Regions from separate parts of the Homo sapiens genome. Here region 1 is linked to region 2. Evidence: fine-mapped expression QTL. A gene starts in region 2. The other region holds a variant in brackets. All regions are shown on one strand. Distances are between the middles of the regions. Region 1 has its middle 23 kb from the start of PCDHB1. Region 2 holds the start of PCDHAC2 (protocadherin alpha subfamily C, 2).

What was found. PIP is the estimated chance that this variant, and not a neighbour inherited with it, causes the effect.
Region 1: its variant is the best candidate, but not a certain one, in a credible set for the expression of PCDHAC2 in lung (TOPMed, PIP 0.65).

Annotation. Positions count from the first base shown.
Region 1 is chr5:141,027,169-141,030,081 of GRCh38, forward strand. No RefSeq gene overlaps it. Among named protein-coding and RNA genes, the nearest start is that of PCDHB1, 23 kb to the right of the region's middle. The variant G/A (reference allele first, on the strand shown) is at 1,420.
Region 2 is chr5:140,964,669-140,967,581 of GRCh38, forward strand. It overlaps PCDHAC2 (protocadherin alpha subfamily C, 2), which reads left to right and starts at 1,808. Exons shown (of 4, transcript NM_018899.6): 1 at 1,808-2,913. The coding sequence starts at 2,099. All of the region lies in intron 1 of PCDHA1 (protocadherin alpha 1), which reads left to right. All of the region lies in intron 1 of PCDHA2 (protocadherin alpha 2), which reads left to right. All of the region lies in intron 1 of PCDHA3 (protocadherin alpha 3), which reads left to right. It also overlaps PCDHA4, PCDHA5, PCDHA6, PCDHA7, PCDHA8 and PCDHA9, and 6 more genes.

The DNA.
Region 1 (2,913 bases), 62 kb after region 2:
GATAAAAAGTAGCGAATTTTTAAACTTAAAAAAAAAATTCATTTGGGAGGTTCTAACTGAACTTTCCATATTTCAAGAGTACCCATCCTAGCCACAGGAAAACATGAATATTCTTCAGCTCAGAGCTAAATTTTAGTCATGCTTATCGCCCTTTGGTTTTCTCAGGCCACTGCCCCATGTGAGAGCTAGCAGCATCAGCAGCACAACTATCATCCCAATATTCTGATCATCTGAGAAGCAAGGGCTTCAGGAATGGATTTGTTTTCAAAAAGCGTACAAAGCCAGAAACTTGATTCCTCCATTTATGGATAATATCCAGGACAGATGGAAAGAAACACACCAGACAGCAAATGCCCTTGTCTCTGGTCTCCATATCTGCATTGGCACAGGTCAAACACAGTCTCTATGTGGCCCTGGGCTTAAAGGAAAACATCAGTTTTAGCTAAGCGAGAGCCCCAGAATTCAGTATATTTGTGACACGATCCAAATCCTTCACCCCCAACTTATAGCCTTACCATCACTATGTGACCATCAACATTAAGGTCGTGGTTTATGCCAGTTTCCAAAAGTTCAGAACTCCCCGACCATCTCCTTTCACTCAGAGAGTAAATCCCATGTTGTTCTGTAGATTTTTTTTACGCTATTTCTATCTTTCCTTAACTCCTGAAGCCTTTGTATTATGCCCTGTGGTCAGTCATTAGCAAAATTCCCTATGTTTGCAGCCTCTTTTCTGAAAATTTGCTGTCTTTGTTTAAACCGAACACTGGTTCTCCCTAAGGAGATTATTTCCATTATTCTTCTCAAAATGTAGCTGTGATTTTTCCTTAGCCTTTAATCCCACTGGGCCTAGAAGTAAGAAATTATCTTCCCTGCTCCTTCCAGATCATCCTACCACTTGCCACTTCTGTATCACCCTACCTTGCCCCCCACCTTGCCACTTCCAGATCTCCCTATCTCCCTTCTGCCTAACAACATTCAGCTTAGAATCTCATGCGGTCAAATTTTAACACCCACTACCTCTCCTTGTAGCAGTCATCTCCTGATCCCATGTCACTCACTGTCATTTCTTGATGATTTTACCTGCTGGCTCAATATCTTCTCTAGTACTATTCTAAACATAATACTTGGTGATTTCAATATCCACATAGATGTTTCTTCTAACAGCCTACCTTCTCCATTCCTTGACCTTCTCTCCTTGAATTACCCAGTGCTCTACTGACCTCAGCTACCTACTCCCATCTAAGGTCAAATATCTTTATGTTATCAGTGACTGCAACACTTTCCTAATTTCTAAGTATCAATTTCAAGCATCAAACTTTCTAATTGCCCCCTACAATTTTCCCAGCTTACTCCCTCTAAGACCCGAAAATAATGCCAACCATTCCAATACATAAAATCTATTAGTCCTACCATCTTTTC[G/A]TCATCCCTACCACCTTCATGTCCTAATTCTTTTTATCCAGTGAAAAGTCTGGGGTCAATCATTATAATCACTGCATTTTATATACCTTAAAATCCATGATCCTCCCTCACTTTAATATACTTGCTTATAAAAATCCGAAGCTTCATAAATCAAAAACTAGATTTATAAATTCAAAGACTTGTAAACCTAAAACTTTGCCCACATCAGGCTTGTATTCACATATGTTAATGTAGCAGGAGAAAAACATCACAATATTGCTAGCTGTTCTTATTTTATATTTGTGATTACAAATCTCAAGTGGCCCTTAACGTTGTCTGGCAATTATATAGTATTTTCCTAGCCCATTTACTCTCTCGTCTGCATCCATCCTACCTTGACCAATTCCTACATTCTGATGTCTTTCCAACTTTCAGCACTCCTCCCACTCCTCCATCAGTAGAGCATCTAACTTCAAATAAATTTGATAAATGAAGTGATCAGAGGAGCTGCCCATAAGTCTTATCTCATTGACCTACTGACCTGCCTTTGTTCTCTTGTACTGTATGTTATGTTCTGTGACTACTAGATGAACTCCCTGTGTCATGTACTCAAGGACATTGCTTTCTACCACCACTGTATTATCAATTTTCTCTTTCCTACTGGATCTTTCCCATCACCATACAAGCATGTTGTTATTTCTCACATCTTAAAGTAACTATTTATTGACCTCGTTTTTCCTTCCAGCTACTGCACATTTCTCTCTTCTTTATACAAAAAATTCCTTGAAAGTGTTCCCTATACTGACTATCTCCAATTTCTCCTCTAATTTCTGTTTTATAGTTTAAAAATTATTACATTATATTATATTATATTATGTTATATTATATTATATTATATTATATTATATTATATTATATTATATTTTTGAGACAGAGTCTTGCTCTGTTGCCCAGGCTGGAGTGCAGTGGTGTGATCTTGGCTTACTGCAACTTCTACCTCTCGGGTTCAAGTGATTCTTATGCCTCAGCCTCCCAGGTAGCTGGGATTACGGGTGCACGCCACCATGTCCGGCTTATTTTCGTATTTTTAGTAGAGATGAGGTTTCACCATGTTGGCCAAGCTGGTCTTGAACTCCTGGCCTCAAGTGATCCACCTGCCTGAGCCTCCTAAATTGCTGGGATTACAGGGGTGAGCCACTGCAACCGGCCCAAGTTTTAAGATAATTATATTTAAACAATTAGTACTCATAGCTACTTGGCTGTAGGTTCAAATGACTTCATTTGAAACCACTATTCTTCATTTTAGAAATTAGTACTTGGCCTGAAAAGATCATTGCAATGCTCAATTTTATTTATTTTAAAAAGTTCAAACCTATAGAAAAGTCAACAGAATAGTAAAATAAACCTCTATACTCCTTTCATCAAGATTCACCATTTAACATTGGCCACATTTACTTCTCTCTTTCTCTCTCCCTTAACCTTTCCTTCCCTGTCTCCCTTTCTGTCCTTCACTCT
Region 2 (2,913 bases):
GGTCCACAATTTGTGCACTTGAGAGATTAAGGCCTCCGAGATCAAATTACCACAGCAAACTGAGACAGAATTATTGTAGGGATGTTTGGGGAGGATGCAGAGAGAAGAGGAAGAAGCCAGAGACCCAAGAAAGGAGACAGGAATAGATTTTGATGAAAATTGCTTCCTACTCTGTACCCTTGAGGAAACAAAGAGGACAAATAAGAAGCAGCAGTGATAGGAGGCTGGGCGCTTCTCTGGAATAACACTGGCTAGGTAGTGGAGCATTGATAGTGAGTGTGCTTGGTTGGTGGAACGAAGGGATGTGCTAGTTCAGGCCTTTGAATTCTGGGTGTCAGGATCACAACCTTGGCTCCTTTAACTGTCCGCTCTAGGAGGGAAGCATGCCAAATGTCAGGTCTCACTCTGACTTTGTTCCAGTCCATAGCTAGAAAATGACCCATAGAGGAAGATCTACAGATGACAGAATACTGGGAGATGAAGAGAAAGGACGTTTTAGTGAGTGCTTTTTTTGCACATGAGGCAATAGATTTCAAATTCCTGTGGAAGAAATGTGAGAACCTGGGAAGAGTGAATATTCAGAACTGAGCAGCAGAGGCAATGACACAGCATGGAAAGATTTCCTCTGATCCTTCTACCTTCTCTTTTACTGAAGTGAATTTGTTGTCTCTGTGTTGCCTCTATAGCAGTACAAGAGGAAACTTGGGGACACAGAAGAACAGAAGTCTAAGGAGTCTTATATTTAAGGAAGATAAGCTGCAGTCATTGAAATTGCTGGTTATTGTAAGATAAATCCCAGACTCCCACATTTTGCTTAATGACAGCAGATTTTTTTTTTTTTTTAACTGCAAAGCATTAATGGAATCCAAATTCCAGCCTGGCTTAGGAGATCAACAGTAACGCTCTTGATTTAATGGTTTTGCAGACTCTTGAAGACATTGTCATCCATTAAAGAAAAAATTTTAAATTACTCTTGAAAGAAAATGTCTTGGGTGATAAATGTAAAAGATTTGAAGCAAGATTAGAAAAAGCTTGAGAGAAGAATCTCTTTAAAAATTTTACCAGATTTTCCCCATTGTCGCCAAAATGGGTCAAATAATAGATTTGCCTACAGCTTCATGGAGACTATTTTTTTAAACAGAGCATTTTAAACATTTAAATATTGGTTATTTGCCAAGGCACACACTGAAAATAAGGGCCACTTGGCCGAGAGCAGAATTGAGTCTTGGATCCCAGGATGCTGGTTTTAGGCTTGCTCCCGGAAAGAGGGCAGCATTTGCCATCCCCCTCCTTTTGCCCTAGGAGTTGAGCACTTTCTGCAGTACTTAAGAGTGTCCAGGGAAGATGTGGGAGTCAGGTGAATAGTTCCCATCGCCAGTAACCCCAGAGCGCCTCCCCCTGCGTTGTTTCCTTTTAATGTTAGATCCGCCGCCTGGGTGCCCATACTTAGCTAAGGCCCCTCAGTTTATTTTCCTGAATTGCGCTTGGAGATCTTTTCCTGGGGAGCTGATAGCCAGACTTCTAGGGGCTTGACTGCTTTTCCCAGACTAATCTCCTTAAAGACCCGTTAAGCAGGGGAGAGACGGTGGAGACTGGATGAACTGGACAGTGGGGGTAGGGAGAAAGGGAGTGGCCGTGTTCCTGCGGTCCGCTGGGATCCGGCAGGTCCAGGGTGAAGGAGATGGGGCTGGAGAGGCTGAGCAGTCCGGGTTCGCTGTCCGCCACTTCGGCGCGGAATCAGAGCAGGACTTGCTGAGCCCTCCTACCGCTCCCTTTCCCCCTCCCCCTCTGTCTTCCCTTCTGTTTCCTTTTCCCTCCCCCTGGAGCTGTAGCGGCAGCAGCAGCAGGAAGCCGAGCCGGGTTGAGCGACTCGGAGGCGAGCGGAGGAGCTGGAATATGGGGAGTCAGCGAGGACGGTGGGGCCAGGAGCCCTTGGGAGGGCCTACGGAGGGAGCGGCCCCAGGCGCTTTCTAGAGCGTGAGCGGTGGGGGAGCAGGCGCAGGGTGGCACGAGCGGAGGCGGGGCCCGGGCGTGGGGCACGGCTGGGGAAGCTGCCGCCTCCGGCCCTGCCCGGCTGCCTCCGCCGCGGCCAGTGGCTATGGAGCAGGCGGGCACCAGACCTGCGGCGACAGAGCATCCACGGCTCCGGCGGCCCATGCCCTGGCTGCTGCTACTGCCTCTCCTGCTGCTGTTGCTGCTGCTGCTACCTGGCCCTGCGGCCTCCCAGCTGCGATACTCTGTGCCAGAGGAGCAGGCACCCGGCGCGCTCGTGGGCAACGTGGCTCGCGCGCTGGGGCTTGAGCTGCGGCGCTTGGGGCCGGGTTGCTTGCGCATCAACCATCTGGGTGCGCCCAGTCCGCGCTACCTGGAGCTGGACCTGACGAGTGGAGCGCTCTTCGTCAACGAGCGCATTGATCGGGAGGCGCTGTGTGAGCAGCGGCCTCGCTGCCTGCTCAGCTTGGAAGTGCTGGCGCACAACCCCGTGGCGGTGAGCGCCGTTGAGGTGGAAATATTGGACATCAACGACAACTCACCGCGTTTCCCGCGGCCCAACTACCAGCTTCAGGTAAGCGAATCGGTGGCGCCTGGAGCGCGCTTTCACATAGAGAGTGCGCAGGACCCCGACGTGGGCGCCAACTCAGTACAGACCTACGAGCTCAGCCCCAGCGAGCACTTCGAGCTGGACCTTAAGCCCCTGCAGGAGAACAGTAAAGTGCTTGAGCTGGTGCTGCGTAAGGGCCTAGACCGGGAGCAGGCAGCCTTGCACCACCTGGTTCTCACAGCCGTGGATGGGGGCATCCCAGCCCGCTCGGGTACGGCACAGATCTCTGTGCGTGTCCTGGACACTAACGACAACTCTCCTGCCTTTGACCAGTCCACTTATCGCGTCCAGCTACGGGAGGACTCACCCCC